2 separate regions of the Homo sapiens genome follow, and region 1 is linked to region 2. Evidence: fine-mapped expression QTL. A gene starts in region 2. The other region holds a variant in brackets. All regions are shown on one strand. Distances are between the middles of the regions.

Region 1 (11,613 bases), 30 kb before region 2:
ATGGAGAAACTTCGCCTCTACAAAAAATACAGAAATTAGCTTAAGCGTGGGAGGCGGAGGTTGTAGTGAGCAGAGATTGCGCCACTGCACTCCAGCCTGGATGACAGAGCAAGACTCTGTTTCAAAACTATGGGGACAGTAAATAACAGATCAGCAGTTGCCAGGGGTTAGTGAGAAGAGAGGGATGAACAGGCAGCGCATGAATGACGTTTAGCGCAGTGAAACTACTCCATGTGATACTATATTGGTGGGTTCATGCCTTATACGTTTGTCCAGCCCCACAGAACGTACAACAGCAAGAGTGAACCCTCATGTAAAGTACAGACCTCAGGAGAAAATGATATGTCAGTGGAGGTTCATAGATTTTTTTTTTCAGACAGAGTCTTGCTCTGCCGCTCAGGCTGGAGTGCAGTGGCATGATCTTGGCTCACTGCAACCTCCACCACCACCTCCTGGGTTCAAGCAATTCTCTTGCCTCAGCCTCCTAAGTAGCTGGGAGTACAGGTGCCTGCCACCATGCCTGGCTAGTTTTTGTATTTTTAGTAGAGATGGGGTTTCACCATGTTGCCCAGGCTGGTCTCGAACTCCTGACCTCCCAAAGTGCTGGAATTACAGGCATGAGTCACCGAGGTTCATAGATTCTAACACATGTATCACTGTGGTACAGGATAGGTCAGCAAGGGAGGTTGTGCAGGGGGATGGGAGGGAGGGGATATAGGAGAACTCTGTATTTTCCACTCAACTTTGCTGTAAACCTAAAACTGCTCTAAACAAATTGAGTGGTTATCCTACTACTCAAGAGGCTAAGGTGGGAGGATCACTTGAGCCCAGGAGTTTGAGACCAGGCTGGGCAGCAGAGTAAGACGCTGTGTCTACAAAAAATTTTAAAATTAGCCAGATGGCCAGGCATGGTGGCTCACACCTGTAATCCCAGCACTTTCGGAGGCTGAGGTGGGTGGATCACCTGAGGTCAGGAGTTCGAGACCAGCCTGGCCAACATGGTGAAATCCTGTCTCAACTAAAAATACAAAAATCAGCCAGGCGTGGTGGCGGGCGCCTGTAATCCCAGCTACTGGGGAGGCTGAAGCAGGAGAATCGCTTGAACCCTGGAGGTGGAGGTCGCACTGAGCCTAGACCGTACCATTGCACTCCAGCCTGGGTGACATAGTGAGACTCCCTCTCAAAAAAAAAAAAAAAAAAAAAAAAAAATTAGCCAGGTGACGTGGCAGGAGCCTATAGTCCCAGCTCCTACAGAGGCTGAGGTGGGAGGATCACTTGCGCCTGGGAGGTCAAGGTTGCCATGGGCTATAATAGCACCACTGTACTCCAGTGTGGGTGACAGAGCGAGACCCAGTCCCCAGCCCCACAAAAGAAGTCCTTCTGGGGATATTTAACTGCCTTTCACAAATGTGTCTGACCCACCATCTCAAGTCACACAGGCTAAGTAGAAACGCTTTGCCAAACACCAGAATAACAATAATACCTTTTTCTTTTCTTTTTTCAGACAGTCTTGCTCTATCGCCCAGGCTGGAGTGCAGTGGTGCGATCTCAGCTCAATGCACTCTGCCTTCCAGTTCAAGCAATTCTCCTGCCTCAGCCTCTAGAGTAGCTGAGATTACAGGTGTGTGCCACCACACCTGGCTAATTTTTGTATTTTTTTCCTCAACAAGAACAAACTTGGTAAATAACGATGATTGTTCATGGTTTCAGACTCCTTTTTTTTTTTTTTTTTTTTAAGTTCCAGGGTACATGTGCACAATGTGGTTTGTTACATAGGTATACATGTGCCATGTTGGTTTGCTGCACCCATTAACTCATCATCTACATTAGGTATTTCTCCTAATGCTATCCCTCCCGCAGGCCCCTACCCCACAACAGACCCCGGTGTGGGTGTGTGTTGTTCCCTGCCATGTGTCCAAGTGTTCTCATTGTTCAGTTCCCACCTATGAATGAGAACATGCGGTGTTTGGTTTTCTGTCCTTGTGATAGTTTGCTGAGAATGATGGTTTCCAGCTTCATTCGTGTCCCTGCAAAAGATATGAACTCATCCTATTTTATAGCTGCATAGTATTCCATGGTGTATATGTGCCACATTTTCTTAATCCAGTCTATCATTGATGGACATTTGGGTTGGTTCCAAGTCTTTGCTATTGTGAATAGTGCCGCAATAAACATACGTGTGCATGTGTCTTTTTTTATTTTTTTTTGAGACAGAGTTTTGCTCTTGTCACCCAGGCTGGAGTGCAATGGCTTGATCTTGGCTCATGGCAACCTCTGCCTCCTGGGTTCAAGTGATTCTCCTGCCTCAGCCTCCCAAGTAGCTGGGATTACAGACGCCTACCACAATGCCCAGCTAATTTTTGTATTTTTAGTAGACAAGGGTTTTGCCATGTTGGGCAGGCTGGTCTCAAACTCCTGACCTCAACTGATCCGCCCGCCTTGGCCTTTCAAAGTGCTGTGCTGGGATTACAGGCGTGAGCCACTCTATCCAGCCAACTTCATTTTTAAAATTTTTATTTTAAAATAATATAGGCTAGGTGTAGTGGCTCACGCCTGTAATCCCAACACTTTGGGAGGCCGAGGCGGGCAGATCACCTGAGGTCAGGAGTTTGAGAGCAGCCTGACCAACAAGATGTAACCCCGTCTCTACTAAAAATACAAAATTAGCCGAGTGTGGTGGCGTGCGCCTGTAATCCCAGCTACTCCGGAGGCTGAGGCAGGATAATCGCTTGAACTCAGGAGGGGGAGGTTGCAGTGAGCCGAGATAGCACCATTGCACTCCAGCCTGGAGAACAGTGAAACTGCCTCAAAAATAAATAAACAAATAAATAAATAAATAAAAATACGGACAGGATCTCCCTATGTTGCCCAGGCTGGTCTCGAACTCCTGGACTCAAGGGATCCTCCTGCCTCAGCCTCCCAAAGTGCTGGGGTTACAAGCAATGAGCCACTGCATCCAGTCAACAATAATATTGTATATTTATTTATTTAATTATTATTTTTTTGAGACAGAGTCTTTCTCTGTCACCCAGGCTGGAGTGCAGTGGTGCAATCTCGGCTCACTGCAATCTCCGCCTCCTGGGTTCATGACATTCTCCTGCCTCAGCCTCCCGAGTAGCTGGGACTACAGGCACCCGCCACCACGCCCGGCTAATTTTTTTGTATTTTTAGTAGACGGGGTTTCACCGTGTTAGCCAGGATGGTCTCAATCTCCTGACCTTGTGATCCTCGTGGCCTCCCAAAGTGCTGGGATTACAGGCGTGAGCTGCCGTGCCCGGCCAATATTGTATATTTATTAAGCACTTGTTTGCATGTCTTTCTGCTCAGCATTTCACAGACACCACCTCATGAGCTCTTTACATGAGTCCTATGAGATAGCAAGTGTGAAGCTCCCATAATGGAGGACTAAGGCCCAGAGAGGTGAAGCCATTAGCCTGAGGTCACACAAATGTGAAAGGGTGAAACTGGCAGTCTAATCTATGTGGCTTGTGACCGCCCCGACCAAATACTTTGTGTATTCAACAAGTAGTTATTGGCCAGGCGCAATGGCTCACACCTGTAATCCCAGCACTTTGGGAGGCGGAGGCAGGTGGATCACCTGAGGTCAGGAGTTCAAGACCAGCCTGGCCAATAAGGTGAAACCTCAACTCTACTAAAAATACAAAAAATTAGCCAGGCATGGAGGCGGTCACCTGTAGTCCCAGCTACTCGGGAGGCTGAGGCAGGAGAATGGTGTGAACCCAGGAGGCGGAGCTTGCAGTGAGCCTAGATCACGCCACTGCACTCCAGCCTGGGCGACAGAGCAAGACTCTGTCTCAAAAAGAAAAAAAAAAAAAAGTTAAACAGTTGAATCCAGCCACCTCTGCGCTGTCTCATGCTAGCTGCTGTCCACAGGAGACCAGACTCCCAGCTAACCCAGCTTTCTTGAAGAGGGCTCCAAAAATCACAGGCTCCAGCAGAGAAAACATGAGTTTATTACCAGATGGTGGAGATGGTGGGCCTCAAGTTTGGAAGCTGGGGGATTTAAGGGCTGGATTAGTGCCCCTACAAATGTTGGGTCCCTCAAGATCATGGTTAGGCTCACGGCCAAGAAAGAAAAATAAGTTCACAGAGGTGGGGTCTCTAGACAGGAGTAAGGCACACGGTGTGGGTGAGGCTGACATCCCCCTCTTGGTTTCATCCTGGAGCAGGGAGCAGGAGGCTCCCTCTGCAGCCACTGCCTGGTCCAGTCCTCCCAGGCAGGGCTGCCATTGTGCCTCAGCACACGCTGAACACTGAAGGGGCCTGGCCTTGGTACTTCTCATGGACTGTCTTCAGAATGGGTATGAGGTTCTCGAAGGTTGGGCGAAAGGACGCCTCTGTCTCCCAGCAGTTCTTCATGAGATGATAGACCTAGAAGGAAAAACCAGGGCTGGTGGGGGCTGCCCTCTCCACAGCAGGATAGTGGGGTCAGGGAAAGACAAAGGAAGTCTCACCTCACAGGGACATTTGTCGGGCCGTGGCAGCCTCTCCCCTCGTTCCAGCAACTCAGTGAGTCTCAGAACTGTCATCTGACCCTGAGCAATGCCTATGAGCTCAAGGAATTTCTACAGTATAAACAAGACAAGCTCTTTTCAAGAGGCAATGAAAGGCAGGCACGGTGGCTCATGCCTGTAATCCCAGCACTTTGGAAGGCTGAGGTGGGTGGATCACCTGAGGTCAGGAGTTCGAGACCAGCCTGGCCAACATGGTGAAACCCCATCTCTACTAAAAATACAAAAATTAGCTGGGCATAATGGCAGGCGCCCGTAATCCCAGCTACTTGGGAGGCTGAGGCAGGAGGATCGTCTGAACCTGGGAGGCGGAGGTTGCAGTGAGCCGAGATTGTGCCATTGCACTCCAGCCTGGGATACAAGTGTGAAACTCCATCTCAAAAAAGAAAAAGAAATCACTCTGCAACTTCATGAAATCGACTGCATGGGTTCCAATCCCACCTCTTACACTTCTCAGCTGTGTGACTTTGAATTTGAGTTCACTTCTCTGGGCCTGTTTTCTCATCCGTAAAATAGGGTAATAACATCTGCCACCTGGGATTACTGTGAACGTTAAACTAATATTCATAGAGTAAGCGTGAGTCAGGTGTTTGCCGTTATTATTAAGCCTCACAGCAGATTGTTCTTACCGTCCAGAATTTTTTTTTTGAGACAGTCTCTCGCTCTTTCACCCAGGCTGGAGTGCAGTGGCATGATCTCGGCTCACTGCAACCTTCGCCTACCGGGTTCAAGCAATTCTCCCTGCCTCAGCCGCCTGAGTAGCTGGGATTACAGGCACCTGCCACCACGCCCGGCTAATTTTTGTATTTTTAGTAGAGACGGGGTTTCACCATGTTGGCCAGGCTGGTCTCGATCTCCTGACCTCGTGATCTGCCCGCCTCGGCCTCCCAAAGTGCTGCGATTACAGGTGTCAGCCACCGCGCCCGGCCTATGCCTTTCTTTCCTTTCTTTTCTTTCTCTCTCTCTCCGTCCTGTCCTGTCTTAGACGGAGTCTCGCTCTGTCACCCAGCTGGAGTGCAGTCGGGAGATCTCGGCTCACTGCAAGCTCCGCCTCCCGGGTTCATGCCATTCTCCTGCCTCAGTCTCCTGAGTAGCTGGGACTACAGGCGCCCGCCACCACGCCTGGCTAATTTTTTTTGTATTTTTAGTAGAGACGGGTTTCACCGTGTTAGCCAGGTTGGTCTCGATCTCCTGACCTCGTGATCCGCCCGCCTCGGCCTCCCAAAGTGCTGGGATTACAGGCTTGAGCCACCGCGCCTGGCCCAGCCTATGCCTTTCTAATTGCTCTAGCAAACTCCCGGTGGGGCTGCGGGCCTGGCTCTCACCGTGGGGGGGCTCTGGCTGGAGTCACAGTGCGTCAGCAGCTCATACAGGGTCACCCCGAAGGACCAGACATCTGACGCATAGTAGAACTTATACTCCTTCAGGCACTCTGGGGCATACCTAGGGGGAGGGGGGCACTCAGGCCACGGGGGGCTGCACTGAGGGCTTGGGGATCAGACCAGGCTGAAGCCCTCACCTGAGACTGAAGGACCCTCTGGGCTCAGTTGGGACCCACCCTTAAGAGCGCAGCCTGAGCGGGGTGATATGCTCATTGGCTAGGCCGCTCATTGGCTAGGCCGGGTTAACCCCGCCCACCAGGCCAAGCCGCACTCTATACACCGCCCCTTGCCTCCATAGGCCCCACCCCCGCACCGCTAGGCCCCGCCGCGCTTCACTGGGATCATGCCCTATCATGATACCCAGCATCCGTCTACTCCACCCTGCCTGTTCCAAGTGACCCCAGCACCCCCTCAGACTGCACCCCGCCTGGTCACCAGAACACGGGGCTGTCCCCATCCTCGCGCACGCGGTAGTACTCGTGGCCTTCGGGCACGGCCTTGGCTAGGCCAAAGTCCCCGATCTTGACCAGCCTGTCGTTGTCCAGCAGCACGTTGCGCGCGGCTAGGTCTCGGTGGATGTAGTGCTGCGCGTGCAGATAGGCCATGCCCTGGGGACGGGGCAGGGCTCGTGAGTTTCAGTGGGGCGGGGTTCGGCCGGGGGCGGCGGCAGGACCTGAGCAGCCAGGAGGGCTGGGGGACAGTCAGGTCAGGCCGGTGGCTACCCGGCCGCTGGAGAGGGCCGGATGGCACGTGGCACCAAGCAAAAGGAGGCTGAGCCAGAAAGCAGGGACGGGGCTAGACGAGCAAAGCTGGGCAGGAGGGCGAGTTGGGAGGGGCCGAGCCGGCTGTGCGTGGTCCCTTGGGAGGAGGGGGTGTGGCCAAGCAAGCCAAACAGTTCGGAGGTCAGTGCAAGGACAAGACAGCCTGGGCAAACGAGCAGGGGCGGAGCGTGAGAGCAGACTGCACCGGATCGCTCAGGCCAGCCCAAGCTGAAGAGGAAGGGGCAAGCTCCAGAAGCAGGGGCGGGGCCGACCAACCTCGCAGATCTGCTGGGCGAAGAGCAGCAGCTGGGCCAGCCCGATGCTGTGCCGGGGCAGGTAGTCTCGGAGGCTGCCCAGGGGCACGTACTCCATGACCAGCTGCAGCGACTTCTCGCCTGCCGCGGAGAGGGGCGGCCCCGGTGGGGGACGATAGAGGGCGGGCCGGGGACC[G/A]CCTACCTTGAGCCCAGCAGAGCCCCTCCAAGGTCGGGAGGGAAGGCCAAGACCCGCGCACACTAGACCCAGTTCTCAGGTGGGATGGACCCATCCAGAACCCCATTCTCACTTGAGGGAGCTGCTGGTGGCTCCCGTCCATCCTGGCCCCAGCAGGTAGCACCCCCCAGATGGGAAGGAGGCAGCCCAGCCACGCTCACCCAGATGCCAAGAACCGCGTACTGCAGCCTGGGGTTGAGAGTCTCTAATTGGCTAGGCCAGACTGGCCCCGCCCACAAGGCCACACCCACGCTCTAACCACGCCCCCTCAAGTCTCTAGGACTCGCCGGGTCCCGCCCACCTTGGTCCTCGCAGCAGCCCTTGTACTTGATGATGTGCTCGTGGTAGAGCGTGCGCAGAATGTCAATCTCCTGCTTCCAGCCCGAGCGGTGCTGGGGGCCGCAGTCTGCCTTGAGGGCTTTCACCGCCACCATCTCGCCAGTGCCGTCGTTGGTCGGATCGTAGCAGTACAAGCTGACCTTGCCGAAGTGACCCTGGTCGGGAGCGCACGAGGGTCAGCTCCACCTCCCCAATCCCTGCACCACTCCCCAACCCCCGATTTCCCGGGCCACTCCTCCAGGCAGATCCTTTCGGAATACCCCAGGCCCCGCCTACTCCGCTCTATTAAGACTCCTTGGCACCTAGGCCTCCCTCAAAGCAGAGGGTCCCACCCACATCTCCTGAGAATCACCTTAGGTAGGAATTTATCCTCAACCCCCAAACTCCTTCCCGACCAGGCGGGCCTTTTAGCAGCTCAGGCCCGTCCCTCACCTCGCCCAGATCTCGGATCTTTTTCAAATAGCGCTTGTGGAAAACCGTAGGGTCCGACGCCGGTGAGTCCGGGTTCACAGTCAAGACGTCAGCAAGATCTGGAAGAGTTGCGGTGGGTAAAGGCCTGACCCCGATCCTTTCCCCAGCAGGCCCACACTTGGGAGTCACAAAGCCAGCCACAGCTACCCCAGGATCCGATTCTAGAGGTAAGAAAACTTTTTCCTGCAACAGCTGAAAGAGTCCACTTATTGTACAAAATGATGCAGAGTTGGCTGCATCAAAACTGACACCTGTTTGGGAGGCCGAGGCGGGAAGATCACTTGAGCCCGGGAGTTCAAGACCAGCCTGGACAACATGGTGAAACCCCCTCTCTACAAAAAAGTTAAAAAAAAAAATTAGCCAGGTGTGGTGGTGCATGCCTGTGGTCCCAGCTACTCAGGAGGCTGAGGTAGGAGGATCGTTTGAGCCCAGGAGTTTTGAGGCTGCAGTGAGTCTGGGCCACAGAGAGACACTGTCTTTAAAAAAAAAAAAAAGAAAGAAAGAAAGAAAAAGAAAAAACAGAAAAACCTGACATCTGGAAGTTCCGAGATTGGGTAGAGGGCACAGATATTTCATAGAGAAAAGAGAAAAACTGGCCAGGCGTGGTGGCTCACACCTGTAATCCCAGCACTTTGGGAGGCCGAGGCAGGAGGATCCCTAGAGCCCAGGAGTCTCAGGCTGCAGTGAGCCATGATCGTGCCTCTGAATAACCACCACACTCCTGCCTGGGCAACACAGCAAGACCTAGTCTTTAAAACAAAAAAGAGAAAGAAAAATGTGATATGACCAGTTGAAAATGGCATATTAGGCCGGGCGTGGTGGCTCACGCCTGTAATCCCAACACTTTGGGAGGCTGAGGAGGGTGGATCACCTGAGGTCAGGAGTTTGAGACCAGCCTAGCCAACACAGTGAAACCCCGTCTCTACTAAAAATACAAAAATTAGCTGGGTGTGGTGGTGGACGCCTGTAATCCCAGCTACTCGGGAGGCTGAGGCAGGAGAATTGCTCGAACCCAGGAGGCGGAGGTTGCAGTGGGCCGAGATCGTGCCATTGCACTCCAGCCTGTGCAACAAGAGCAAAACTCCATCTCAAAAAAAAAAAAAAGAAAGAAAGAAAAAAAAAAAGAAAATAGGTCAGGCGCAGTGGCTCATGCCTGTAATCCCAGCACTTTGGGAGGCCGAGGCGGGTGGATCACGAGGTCAAGAGACTGAGACCATCCTGGCCAACATGGTGAATTCCCGTCTCTACTAAAAATACAAAAATTAGCCCGGCGTGGTGGTGGGCGCCTGTAGTCCCAGCTACCCAGGAGGCTGAGGCAGGACAATTACTTGAACCTGGGAGACGGAGGTTGCAGTGAGCCAAGATTGCACCACTGCACTCCAGCCTGGCAACAGAGTGAGACTCCGTCTCAAAAAAAAGAAAAAAGAGCATATTAATTTTTTAAAGAGAACAATACAAAACTTTTTTAAAAAGAAAAAAAAAACTGCAGTGGTCTAATTCTCTAATCCAAAGAAGTTGTGTCTCTCCCCAGACAAAACATTAAGGAGGCCAGGCGCAGTGGCTCACGCCTGTAATCCCAGCAATTTGGGAGGCTGAAGCAGATAGATCATTTGAGGTCTAGAGTTTGAGACCAGCCTGGCCAACATGGCAAAACCCCACCTCTACTAAAAATACAAAAATTAGCCGGGCATGGTGGCACACGCTTGTAATCCCAGCTACTTGGGAGGCTGAGGTGGGAGGATTGCTTGAACCTGGGAGGTGGAGGTTGCAGTGAGCCAAGATCACGTCACTGCGCTCCAGGCTGGGTGACAGAGCAAGATTCCATTGCAAATAAATAAATAAATACATTAATGAGAGCTCAGGGCAGCCAGGCAGGGCATGCTTATGAATGCCACTGCAAGAAATTGGCACACACCCTGAACCACTGTGCAGAGACCTCTCGTGCGCTATAGGCATACAGCAGGGATCCCAGCCCCGTCCCACTTCCCCAGGGTCCCAGCACTGGGATGGAGCTCACTGTGGGGCTGCAGCCGGGTGAGGTCACGCAGGATGGTGCGGAATGATGGCCTCTGGGTTGGCTCATAGGTCAGACACTGGCTGGTGAGTGTGGCCAGCTGTGGGCAGGAGGGCTCGGGCAGCCGGTGCTGCCTCTGGTAGAAATGCTCCTTCTGTTGGGAAAGGGACCCAGAGGAGTCAACATCCTCCCCTCGCCCCCAACCCGTTCCCCAAGAGGCAGAGTCAAGTCCCCAGAGTGGACCGCCAGGTGCCCGCTCTTATCAGTTCCATTATACAGATGAGGCAACTGAGGCTCCACAAAGTGGGAGGACGTGCTCACAGCCGTAGAACCAGGACTGGGACCCAGGTCCAGTGATTATGCAGAGCTGGAGTGTCACAGTCAGCCTCCTGCCCCAAGCTTCCCTCCTGCCCCTCCTGTAGACCACAGCTCCTTAATACACTGAAGCCTCAGCCTTTGCACAGGCCATGCACTCTGCCTAGGCTGCCCTTCCTAGCCAGGCTTGTTGGCATAATTCTACACTTAGATAAAACCTCTTCTGGGGCCGGGCACTGTGGCTCATGCCTGTAATCCCAGCACTTTGGGAGGCCGAGGTGGGCGGATCACCTGAGGTCAGGAGTTTGAGACCAGCCTGACCAATATAATGAAACCCCATCTCTACAAAAAATACAAAAATTAGCCGGGTGTGGTGGCATGTGCCTGTAATCCCCCCTACTCGGGAGGCTGAGACAGGAGAATCGCTTGAACCCAGGAGGCAGAGGTTGCAGTGAGCTGAGATCACGCCATTGCATTCCAGCCTGGGCAATTAGAGTGGAACTTCGTCTCAAAATAAAACCACCACACTCATGAACCTCCTTTGGGAAGCCTTGTCTGACCCCACTGCTGGGTGAGGCGCATCCTCAGCCCTTCTTCCCCACTCTGCAGCCTGGGCGTCTCCCATCGCTGCCCTGGTCACTCTGCCTAAAACTGAAATCAAGTCTCTTACTTGCCTTCTGTGTGCCAGGCACAAGTGACTTCCACAAGGACCTAAAAAGGCTGGGACTACATTGAGCCCCAGCGAGTGGCCCACCTGCTGGTAGCCCAGAGAGACTTGAAGTCACGAGGCCAGAAGGGATGCAGCTTTGAGCTCTGATTCTGTCCTCTGGATTTCTTGGAGGGGCCCCCACTGCGGGGAGGGCCCAAGGGTCTCCTAGACATACCTCGGAGGGACTGCGGCTCTGCAGAGGGGCCTCTCCGTCAAAGCAGATCTCCAGGAGGGTGGCGCCAAACCCCCACTTGTCCATGGCGGTGCTTAGGCTGTTGGCCCCACCTGGTAGGCATTCGGGGGCCAGCCAGGGGATCCTCTCCACCCGCTCTGGGAGGCCAAGGTCAGAGGTCACCAAGGGTGAAAGGAGCAGGGGAAGCCCCCCACTGTGCCCAGGTCCCCTCAGGTACTCACCCTCCCTGGAGAGGGCGCCCAGGCCCACGCCAGGATCACTCAGCTTGATGAAGGGGCTGGTGCCCTCTGCCAACCCCAGCCGGGCCAGCAGGATGTTCCGGCCACACACATTACCATGAACCAGGTTCTTGTTCTCCTGAGGTGGGCAGGAGAGGGGGTGTGGCCACTCAGGAGAGGCACAGACGCC
Region 2 (11,611 bases):
TCCCAAAGTGCTGGGATTACAGGCATGAGCCACCGCGCCCGGCCTGACTTTCTTTTTTTAATGACACTGGGTCTCACTCTGTCACCCAGGCTGGAGTGCAGTGACGAAACCATACCTCATTGCAGGCTTGAACTCCTGGGCTCAAGCGATCCTCTTGCCTCAGGCTCTCAAGTTGCTGGGACTACAGGCATGTACCACCATGCCTGGCTAATTTCTAAAAATTATTTTGTTGAGACAAGGTCTCCCTATGTTGCCCAGGCTGGTCTCCAACTACTGGCCTCAAGCAATCCTCCTGCCTGGGCCTCCTCAAGTACTGGGATTACAAGTGTCAGCTACTGCACCTGGCCAAGTTTTCTGATTTATTATATTTCTTGCTGTCCTCCCTACTAAAATTTCAGCTCTACAAAGGCAGTGATTTGCAGCTGCCACACAGTAGATGCTTACAAAATGTTCACCGAATGAACGGGTGGATGGATGGATGGATGGATGGATGGATGGATGGATGGATGGATGGATAGATGGATGAATAGGTGGGTGGGTGGGTGGATGGATGGATGGATGGATGGATGGATGGATGGATGGATAGATGGATGAATGGGTGGGAGGATGGATGGGTGGGTGGATGGATGGATGCATGGATAGGTGGGTGAGTGGGTGAGTGGGTGGGTGGATGGATGGATGGATGGATGGGTGGGTGGGTGGATGGATGGGTGGGTGGGTGGATGGATGGATGGATGAATGGATGGATGGGTGGATGGATGGGTGGATGGGTGGGTGGATGGATGGGTGGATGGATGAATGGGTGGGTATGGATGGATCGATGGGTGGATGGATGGATAGATGGATGAATGGGTGGGTGGATGGATGGGTGGATGGGTGGGTGGGTGGATAGGTGGGTGGATGGGTGGGTGAGTAGGTGGATGGATAGGTGGATAGGTGGGTGGATGGATGAGTGGGTGGGTGGATGTATGGATGGATGCGTGGGTGGATGGATGGGTGGGTGGGTGGGTGGATGGATGCGTGGGTGGATGGATGGGTGGGTGGGTGGGTGGATGAATGGGTGGATGGGTGGATGGGTGAAAGGGTGGGTGGATGGGTGAATGGGTGGGTGAATGGGTGGGTGGATGGGTGGATGGGAGGATGGATGGATGCATGGGTGGATGGATGGGTGGGTGGGTGGATGGATGGGTGGTTGGGAGGGTGGATGGGTGGGTGGATGGGTGGATGGATGGATGGATGGATGAGTGGGTGGATGGGTGGGTGGATGGGTGGGTGGGTGGATAGACGGATGGATGGGGCCCAGCTGCTGCTTGCACACCCACCCCAGTCCCCATGGTGCCAACGCCCCAGACTCACCAACTTTATGTGCAATGTGGATGCAGACTTCCTCAGCTGTCAGCGATGACTCACTGAAAGTGACCCAGGGCTCCCCGCCGCCTGGACCAGCCCAGTGCAGAAGCACCTTCAGGCCTCCCATGGCAGCCATGGGCTGGGCTCCATCCCCAACGGGCTTACTGCCCCTGGCCATCCCCCAGTGGCGCAGAGGCATGCTCCCGGCAGGTGGCTCAGCTGGAAAGGGGACAATCTGTCAGCTCCCAAGTCTCAGCCCAGAGACCCCTGTTAGCTCTTCAACCTTCCACCCACCCCAGCTAAGGCCTGAGGGGAAGATTCTGGGCTCCCATCTTGGCATGACATTAGAGACCCGATTCCCTCTCTGAGTCTCGTTTTCCACATTTATTGGACAGGGTTGGGGTATGCATCCCCACCTAGATCTCTCATCAACAATAACACTGAACCCTCCTCTCTTTCCACAAATTGACACAGATATAAAAATCTGCTCTGGCCAGGTACAGTGGCTCACGCCTCTAATCCCAGGACTTTGGGATGTTGAGGCAAGAGGATTGCTTGAGCCCAGGAGCTCGAGACCAGCCTAGGCCATATAGCAAGACCCTGTTTCTACAAGACGTTTTATTTTATATCTTATCTTATCTTATCTTATCTTATCTTATCTTATCTTATCTTATTTTTGAGACAGAGTTTCACTCTTGTTGCCCAGGCTGGAGTGCAATGGTACAATCTTGCTCACCACAACCTCTGCCTCCTGGGTTTAAGTGATTCTCCTGCCTCAGCCTCCTGAGTAGCTGGCGCCTGCCACCACACCGGGCTAATTTTTGTATTTTTAGTAGAGACAGGGTTTTGCCATGTTGGCCAGGCTGGTCTTGAACCTCTGACCTCAGGTGATCCACCCGCCTCGGCCTCCCAAAGTGCTGGGATTACAGGCGTGAGCCACTGTGCCCGGCCTCTACAAGAAATTTTTAAAATTTAGCCAGGCGTGGGGGTGCACATCTGTACTCCAAGCTACTCGGGAGGCTGAAGTGGGAGGATCTCCTGAGCCCAGGAGTTGGAGGCTGCAGTGAGCAGTGATCGCACCACTGCATTCCAGCCTGGGTGACAGAGTGAGACCCTGACTCTAAAAATATAAATAAATAAATAAATAAATAAGTAATAAAAATATATAAAAAGGGCCAGGCGCGGTGGCTCATGACTGTAATCCCAGCACTTTGGGAGGCCAAGGCGGACAGATCACGAGGTCTGGAGATTGAGACCATCTTGACCAACATGGTGAAACCCCATCTCTACTAAAATACAATAAATAAATAAATAAATAAATAAATAAATAAATAAAAAGTAAAATAAAAATCTGCTCTTAACACACCTCCCCAAAATAACCAGACAGGCAGATGTGGTCAAACATACCTGAGGGTGAGTCCTGGAGCTCCCTGTGTCAACTCAAGCAAGCCACTTAGCAATTCTGGGCCTCAGTTTCCCCATCTGGAAAAGGGAGGTCCTCAGGGTGTTGCCATCAAAAGATGGTTGTAATGTTTCAATATAGTTCCGCATATTACACATTCAGCACAGACCCTGATTCAGGCACACACAAAAAGAACAAATATGACCAAAACAAGAATAACATAATTGTTATTAGTTTCATCGTGGTGATGGCCTCTTTCAGGCCACAATTCTCCTCTCCCACATTTACCCCCATGAGTGACCTCAGTCCCTGTTGACTCCCCAAAGCCTAGGAGAGTTTATGTCCAGCTCCATCCCCCCAATCCAGGGCCTGAGCCTCCTGAGGGCGCCAGTATGGAAGTGGAGGGGCTGTCACTTCCACCCATGTTGCTGGTTTCCTCATCTGGAAAATGGGCATGTAACAGTGTCTACCTCAAAAGGCTGCTGGGAGGATTTAACGCGAGGAGGCAGAGAAAGTGCCTGGTATACAGTAAGCGCTTAATTAGCCTTTGCCATTAATACCTATTCATGTTATAGATGAGATCCCGGGGATGGGGCTTTCGCGGAGCCTACTTCCTCCTTCCTCCTTTCTCGTCCCCACTGGACCCAGACCCAGCTTTGAAGACAGGGTCGGAGTGAAGTTTGCAACTGGGAAGGCTGCACGCCCCCATGTCCTCCCCCCAAAACCTCTAAACCCGGCCGGCAACGGCGGGAACTGGGATGTGCACCCACCGGGCATCGGAGCAGTCCCGAGGCACCAGGTGCTCCCATCCAAGTGCAGCCTGTCAAGCGCAGCCAGTCCCCGCGGCTTCTTCCTGAGGACCTCCGGCCGCGCTCCTTCCGCGCCCGCGTCCAGACTCACCCTTCCGGGGGAACACAAGCTCGAACCCGGACCCCTCCCCGCTCCCGCGGGTAGCTACTGCTTGTCCCCCGCCGAGACGCCTCCTCCCATTGGCCGCCTGAAACGCACACGCCCATTGGCAGCTGCTCTGTTCTCCCTGCTCGTCACCATTGGATTTTTTTTTTTTTGCCATGGTGGCGGCACTCTCATTGGTCCTGGGGCTCATTCGTCACTCAGCCGCGATTGGCTGAGTCGGCACCCAGATGCGCTGTCGCTTCTGCTATTGGCTGGCACTCGGTGGACGGAGACGGGGGAGGGGCTTGCGAGAGGCGGGAGGGAGAGCGAAGTGTGTGGGCAACGCGGCCGGATCCTGGAGTTCCCCTCCGTGCTGTGGAATTGGGTCAGGCGTGTACGGTCCTGACCCTAGGACACAGCTGCATGTCCTCACCTCGGTGTTCAAAGCTGCACCGGCCACCATTCAACCCTCCGACGCCCTGCCCTTTGGCTTCCCCGTTCCATCCGGTCCTGTCTCCTTTCCCTCGTTTCTACCTGGCCGACTCCATCCTGCTGACTAGAATTCCCCCTCCTTCACTCCTGGGAGGCATTCCTCGCCCACCTGCCCCAGTCCTCTTCCTGATCACCTGCAGCCCTGTCCTCTGAAGCTCCCTAGCGGTCAGGGTAGCAGCTTGGACATCCCGCCAGACGTGAATTCAAATCCCCACTCCGCAAGTCGTGCCCATTTGCTGAGAAGCCTACAGCCAGAGCGTTTCACATACATTATCTCATTTGATCCTAGCAGCAATTCCCTGTATGGCGGCTCTTATTATCCCCATTTCACAGAGGAAGAAACTCAGGCATGAAGAGGTAACAAAGACCGTCCTCTGACCCTTCTTCTGTGCCACACCATAACCACTCCTCGACTTTGTCTTTCACCTGCCCAGCCAAGTCTTAGCAAAGAAGCCTATTAAGTCATCCGCTCATCCTTGATGTCTGATCAACTTCCTCATCTTCCACTTTTTTTTTTTTTTTTTTTTAAGATGGAGTTTCGCTCTTGTCGCCCAGGCTGGAGTGCAATGCTGCGATCTCGGCTCACTGCAACCTCAGACTCCCGGATTCAAGCGATTCTCCTGCCTCAGCCTCCTGGGTAGCTGGGACAACAGGCGCCCGCCACCACGCCCGGCTAATTTTTGTATTTTTAGTAGAGATGGGATTTCACCATCTTGGCCAGGCTGGTCTCGAACTCCTGACCTCGTGATCCACCCTCCCAAAGCGCTGGGATTACAGGCGTGAGCCACCGCACCCGGCCCTTTTGTTGTTAATTTTTAAATTTTGTGGCTAATTTTTAAATTTTTGTAGAGATGGGGTCTGGCTATGTTGCCCAGGCTGGTCTTGAACTTCTGGCCTCAAGCAATCATCCTGCCTTGGCTTTCCAAAGTGCTGGGATTACAGATGTGAGCTAAGACACCCAGCTCCATGGAGTTGGTCTTAACTGCCATGGCCAAGGGACATGTGGCTGCTTCTCTCTGAGTCAGAAAATATGGGTAAAAAGCCTCCTCACAGGGCAGCTGTGGACATTCAGTATGAAAATGCTGAAAGAGATCGGGAATGGTCTCTTTCACACCTGTAATCCCAGCACTTTGGGAGGTGGAGGCGGGCGGATCACCTGAGGTCAGGAGTTCAAGACCAGACTGGCCAACATGGTGAAACCCTGTCTCTACTAAAAATGCAAAAATTAGCTGGGCATGGTGGTGGGCACCTGTAATCCCAGCTATTCAGGAGGCTGAGGCAGGAGAATCGCTTGAACTTGGGAGGCAGAAGTTGCAGTGAGCCGAGATCACACCATTGCCCTTCAGCCTGGGCAACAAGAGCTAAACTCTGTCTCAAAAAAAAAAAAAGAAAAAGAAAAAGAAAGAAAATGCTGATAGAGGCCGGGCACAGTGGCTCACGCCTGTAATCCCAGCACTTTGGGAGGCCGAGGTGGGCGGATCATGAGGTCAGGAAATCGAGACCATCCTGGCTAAGGCGGTGAAACCCCGTCTCTACTAAAAATACAAACAATTAGCTGGGCGTAGTGGCAGCCTGAGGCAGGAGAATGGCGTGAACCGGGGAGGCGGAGCTTGCAGTGAGCCGAGATTGCGCCACTGCACTCCAGCCTGGGCGCCAGAGTGAGACTCTGTCTCAAAAATAAAATAAAATAAAATAAAATAAAATGCTGATAGAGACTTGTCCTGGCTGGATGCAGTGGCTCATCCCTATAAACCTAGCACTTCAGGGAGCTAAAGAAGGAGTACTGTCTGGGCCCAGTTCAAGACCAACCTGGGCAATATAGCAAGACCCCATCTCTACCCAAAATAAAAAAAATTAGTCTAAGGCTGAAGTATGAGAATCGCTTGAGCCCAGGAGGTGGAGGTTGCAGTGGGCTGAGATCCCACCACTGCACTCCAGCTTGGGCTACAGAGTGAGACTCCATCTCGGGGGGAAAAAAAATTAGTTAGTCCCAGCTACTCCGAAGGCTGAGGTGGGAGGATTGCTTGAGCCCAGGAGGTTGAGGCTACAGTGAGCCGTGATCACACCACTGCACTCCAGCCTGGGCAACTTGACCTCCTGGGCTCTGCTGTATTTTCTTCAGAGTCCTTATTGCAACCTGACATTTCATGGGAAGTTTCTTTCTTTTTTTTTTTTTTTAAAGAGACAGAGTCTTGCTCTGTTGCCCAGGCTGGAGTGCAGTGGCGCAATCTTGGCTCACTGCAACCTCTGCCTCTCAGGTTCAAGCAATTCTCCTGCGTCAGCATCCCCGGTAGCTGGGATTACAGGCGTGCACCACCACGCCTGGCTAATTTTTGTATTTTTAATAGAGACAGGGTTTGGCCAGGTTGGCCATACTGGTCTCGAGCTCCTGACCTCAGGTGATCCACCCGCCTTGGCCTCCCAAAGTGCTGGGATTACAGATGTGAGCCACCGCGCCCAGCTGGGTTTCTCTTCTTTCTTTCTTTCTTTTTTTTTTTTTTTTTTTTTTTTTTGAGACAAGAATCTCGCTCTGTTGCCCAGGCTGGAGTGCAGTGCTGTGATCTCAATTCACTGCAGTCTCAACTTCCCAGATTCACCATTCACAATCTTCCACCTCAGCCTCCTGAGTAGCTGGGACTACAGATGTGCATCACGATGCCTGGGTAACTTTTTTTTTTTTGAGGCGGAGTCTTGCTCTGTTGCTAGGCTGAAGTGCAGTGGCACGATCTCGGCTCACTGTAATCCCTGCCTCCCAGGTTCTAGCGATTCTTCTGCCTCAGCCTCCAGAGAAGCTGGGATTACAGGCGTGTGCCACCACACCCAGCTAATTTTTTTGTATTTTTTAGTAGAGATGGGGTTTCACCATGTTGGCCAGGATGGCCTCAATCTCCTGACCTCATGATCCTCACGCCTCGGCCTCCCAAAGTGCTGGGATTACAGAAGTGAGCCACCGCGCCCAGCCGCCTGGCTAACTTTTGTGTGTGTGTATTTTTTATAGAAATGGGCTTCCACCAACCCCGTCTCTACTAAAAATACAAAAATTAGCCGGGTGTGTTGGTGGGTGCCTATAATCCCAGCTACTTGGGAAGCTGAGGCAGGTGAATCACTTGAACCTGGGAGGCGGAGTTTGCAGTGAGCTGAGATCGCGCCACTGCACTCTAGCCTGGGCGACAGAGTGAGACTCTATCTCAAAAAAAAAAAAAGGAAAAGAAATGGGTTTTCACCATGTTGCCCAGGCTGGTCTCAAACTACTGGGCTCAAGTGGTCCTCCCGCCTTGACCTCCCAAACTGCTGGGATTACAGGCGCATGCCACCACACCCGGCTAATTTTTTAGTATTTTTTAGTAGGGACGAGGTTTCACCATGTGGGCCAGGATGGCCTTGATCTCCTGACCTCGTGATCCTCCCGCCTTGGCCTCCCAAAGTGCTGGGAATACCGGTGTGAGCCACCTCGCCTGGCCGGCTGGCTAACTTTTGTGTGTGTGTAATTTTTTTAGAAATGGGTTTTCACTATGTTGCCCAGGCTGGTCTCAAACTACTGGGCTCAAACTGCTGGGCTCAAGTGGACCTCTGGCCTTGACCTCCCAAACTGCTGGGATTACAGGCATGAGCCACCGTGCCCAGCCCCTGGGAAGTTTCTTTGAGCACAAGTTCTATTGCCTGTCTGCGGTTCTAGGACCGCACCAGAAAGAGGTCCGTCTGGTTGTCTGCTAAGCCCTCAGTGCCTGAGATTGTGCATCCAGCCCAGTAGGTGGCTTAAGAAGCCACAGCTGGAGGGGAATGAATGGCCTGGGAGCCAGGAATCCCTGGCTGTTGTCCTGCCTGCTGCGGGAGGGCTGGCTGTGAGCTTCCTCTCTGTCGCCGCTTAGAGTACAGTACCTAGAAGCCAAGAGTGCCAGATTTTTCTTTTTCCTTTTTTCTTTTATTGAGAGAGGGAGTTTCGCTCTTGTTGCCCAGGCTGGAGTGCAATGGCACAATCTCGGCTCACCACAACCTCTGCCTCCTGGGTTAAAGCGATTCTCCTGCCTCAGCCTCCCAAGTAGCTGGGATTACAGGCATGCGCCACCACGCCCGGCTACTTTTTTGTATTTTTAGTAGAGATGGGGTTTCTCCATGTTGGTCAGGCTGGTCTTGAACTGCCGACCTCAGGTGATCCACCCACCTCGGCCTCCCAAAGTGCTGGGTAATACTGGTGTGAGACACCGTGCCCGGCCTAGAGAGTGCCAGATTTTTCAACAGCCATTGGGGCAATGCTCCGTGATTAGATGCTAGAACACAGTGGGCCGAGTGGGCCTGGGACCCGGTATTCCCCGCTCCCAAAGGAACTAGAAGGAAATGCCACATGAGGCGATTAATAATAACAATGCTAGTCATACTCCCAGTAACGATATCAATTCTAACAATGAGCTGGTGCGGTGGCTGGCACCTGTAATCCCAGCACTTTGAGAGACAGAGGCAGGAGGATCGCTTGAACCCAGGAGTCCCAGACCAGCCTGGGCAACATAGTGAAACCTCGTGTCTACAAAAAAAATTTAAAAATTAGCTGGGCATGGTGATACACGCCTGTAGTCCCAGCTACTAGGGAGGCTGGGGTGGGAGGATCGCTTGAGTCCACAGGTTGAGGTTGCAGTGAGCTGTGATCGCACCACTGCACTCCAGCCTGGGCAACCGAGCAAGACCCTATCAAATAAATAAATAAATAAATAAATAAATAAATAAATAAATAAAGCTGACATTTTCCCAGCCTGCACACTGGGGCCGAGCGTGGGTATTTAGCCATCTCTGGGTCTTCTCAGTTTCTTTCTTTTTTTTTTTTTTTTGAGATGGAGTCTCACTCTGTTGCCCAGGCTGGAGTGCAGCGGCGTGATCTCGGCTCATTGCAAGCTCCACCTCCCAGGTTCATGCCATTCTCCTGCTTCAGCCTCCCGAGTAGCTGGGACTACAGGTGCCCGCCACCACACCCGGCTAATTTTTTGTATTTTTAGTAGAGACGGGGTTTCACCAGGGTTAGCCAGGATGGTCTCGATCTCCTGACCTCGTGATCCGCCCGCCTCGGCCTCCCACAGTGCTGGGATTCCAGGCACCAGCCACTGCACCTGGCCTCTTCTCAGTTTCTTTGCAAGTGGTATCAGCACCCCCACTTGACAATTGAAGAAAAGAGGCTAAGGAGGCTGTTTTGCCAAGGCCTGGCGCCTCCTGCCCAAACTCAGACCTGGTCCATAAGGGAGGCCCCAGACCCCACATGTGACTAACAGGAGGGGGTTTCCCAGGACTGAGGGGGTTCCCCAATGGGGGGCTTTCCATGCTAAAATTGGGACAGTCCTGGGCAGGCCAGGACAGTTGGCCACGCCACTACGGCGGGTTTCTCAGAAGGAACAAAAGCTGGGGGCTTCCCCTGGCTCTGCAAGGGCTGCAGGGAGGGGCCTCCTCAGAGCCCCCTGGGACCTGGGAAAAGCCAAGAGTTGATGGATTAAAAGTAAAATACCTTTGTGTTTTCATGAGTGAGAAAGTTCAGGGAACAGCCAGTCTCCTCCTCAAAACAACCATGAGATGGATTTCCTGGGAAATCTTTTTTTTTTGAGACAGAGTTTTTCCTCTTGTCGCCCAGGCTGGAGTACAATGGCACGATCTTGGCTCACTGCAACCTCTGCCTCCTGGGTTCAAGGGATTCTCCTGCCTCAGCCTCCCGAGTAGCTGGGATTAGAGGCGCCTGCCACCACGCCCAGCTAATTTTTGTATTTTTTGTAGACACGGGGTTTCACCATCTTGGCCAGGCTGGTCTCGAACTCCTGACCTCAGGTGATCCACCCGCCTTGGCCTCCCAAAGTGCTGGGATTACAGGCATGAGGCTACCGCACTCAGCCTCCTGGGAATCTTTCCACAAAAATTCTACGCTCCTTTGGGCACGTGTGTGAACCTGTGTTCTCTAGAAAATTCTCAGGAGCAGCCCCAAATGGGACACTCGGTGCTGGCCTGAGAGGATACAGAGGAGTAACTTACACACATGAAGGCTGGCACCAGACGGGCTGAGTTCAAGCCCCAGCTCCATCACTGTGTGATCCTGGGCGGCCCCTTAACCCCACTGTGCCTCAGTTTCCTCCTCTGCAAGATGTGACTATTTAGTCCCAAACCCAGAGGCATGTCAGGGACATCAAATGAGTTAATACACTTCATTAGCCAGGTGTGGTGGTGCATGCCTGTACAGGAGGCTGAGGCAGGAGAATCGCTTGAACCTGGGAGATGGAGGTTGCAGTGAGCCGAGATCGTGCCACTGCATTTAAGCTTGGGCAACAGAGCAAGACTCGGTCTCAAAAAAAAAATAAATAAAAGGACTGGTGGTGGATAGCCAGATGCAGTGTGTGTCTCTTGGCTGTAATTTGAGCTACTCAGGAGGTTGAGGCAGGAGAATCACTTGAGCCCAGAGGTTAGAGGCTGCAGTGAGCTATGATTGTGCCACTGCACTCCAGCCTGGGTGACAGAGCCAGATCCCATCTCTTAAAAAAAAAAAAGGGGGGGGCCACACATGGTGGCTCATGTGTGTAATCCCAGCACTTCGGAAGGCCAAGGCGGGCAGTCCTCTTGAGGTCAGGAGTTTGAGACCAACCTGGCCAACATAGTGAAACCCTGTGTCTACAAAAAATACAAAAATTAGGCCGGGTGCGGTAGCTCACGCCTGTAATCCCAGTACTTTGGGAGGCTGAGGCAGGTGGATCATGAGGTCAGGAAATCAAACCCATCCTGGCTAACACAGCGAAACCCCGTCTCTACTAAAAATACATAAAAATTAGCCGGGCGTGGTGCCAGACGCCTGTAGTCCCAGCTACTCAGGAGGCTGAGGCAGGAGAATGGCGTGAGCTCGGGAGGCAGAGCTTGCAGTGAGCTGAGATCAGGCCACTGCACTCCAGCCTGGGCGACAGAGCAAGACTCCATCTCACAAAAAAAAAAAAAAAAAAAAAAAAAAAGGGCCGGGCACAGTGGCTCACACCTGTAATCCCAGCACTTTGGGAGGCCGAGGAGGGCAGATCACGAGATCAGGAGATCGAGACCACGGTGAAACCCCGTGTCTACTAAAAATACAAAAAATTAGCCGGGTGTGGTGGCGGGCGCCTGTAGTCCCAGCTACTCGGGAGGCTGAGGCAGGAGAATGGCGTGAACCCCGGAGGTGGAGCTTGCAGTGAGCCGAGATCATGCCACTGCACTCCAGCCTGGGCGACAGAGTGAGACTCTGTCTCAAAAAAAAAAAAAAAAAAAAGCCAGGTGTGGTGGAGTGCGCCTGTAATCCCAGCTACTTGGGAGGCTGAGGAGGGAGAATCCCTTGAAACTGGGAGGCAGAGGTTGCAGTGAGCCCGAGATCATGCGACTGCACTCCAGCCTGGGCGACAGAGTGAGACTCAGTCTCACAAAATACAAACAAAATCTTCAATAACAAGGAATGCAGTATTTTGAAAAACTGAAATTAACACCAAAATGTGT

Evidence for each region. PIP is the estimated chance that this variant, and not a neighbour inherited with it, causes the effect.
Region 1: its variant is fine-mapped to the expression of TYK2 in whole blood (TOPMed, PIP above 0.99).

Annotation. Positions count from the first base shown.
Region 1 is chr19:10,346,577-10,358,189 of GRCh38, forward strand. TYK2 (tyrosine kinase 2) reads right to left here. Exons shown (of 25, transcript NM_003331.5): 16 at 11,427-11,562; 17 at 11,188-11,342; 18 at 9,992-10,142; 19 at 7,936-8,033; 20 at 7,466-7,658; 21 at 6,952-7,070; 22 at 6,350-6,522; 23 at 5,858-5,975; 24 at 4,476-4,586; 25 at 3,957-4,392. The coding sequence ends at 4,258. Among named protein-coding and RNA genes, the nearest start is that of ICAM3, 13 kb to the left of the region's middle. RefSeq lists an enhancer at 6,671-7,434 and a silencer at 7,336-7,385. The variant G/A (reference allele first, on the strand shown) is at 7,126.
Region 2 is chr19:10,376,858-10,388,468 of GRCh38, forward strand. TYK2 (tyrosine kinase 2) reads right to left here and starts at 3,715. Exons shown (of 25, transcript NM_003331.5): 1 at 3,523-3,715; 2 at 2,758-2,922; 3 at 1,357-1,569. The coding sequence starts at 1,549. RefSeq lists enhancers at 3,613-3,772, 3,681-4,344, 9,206-9,595, 9,676-9,735.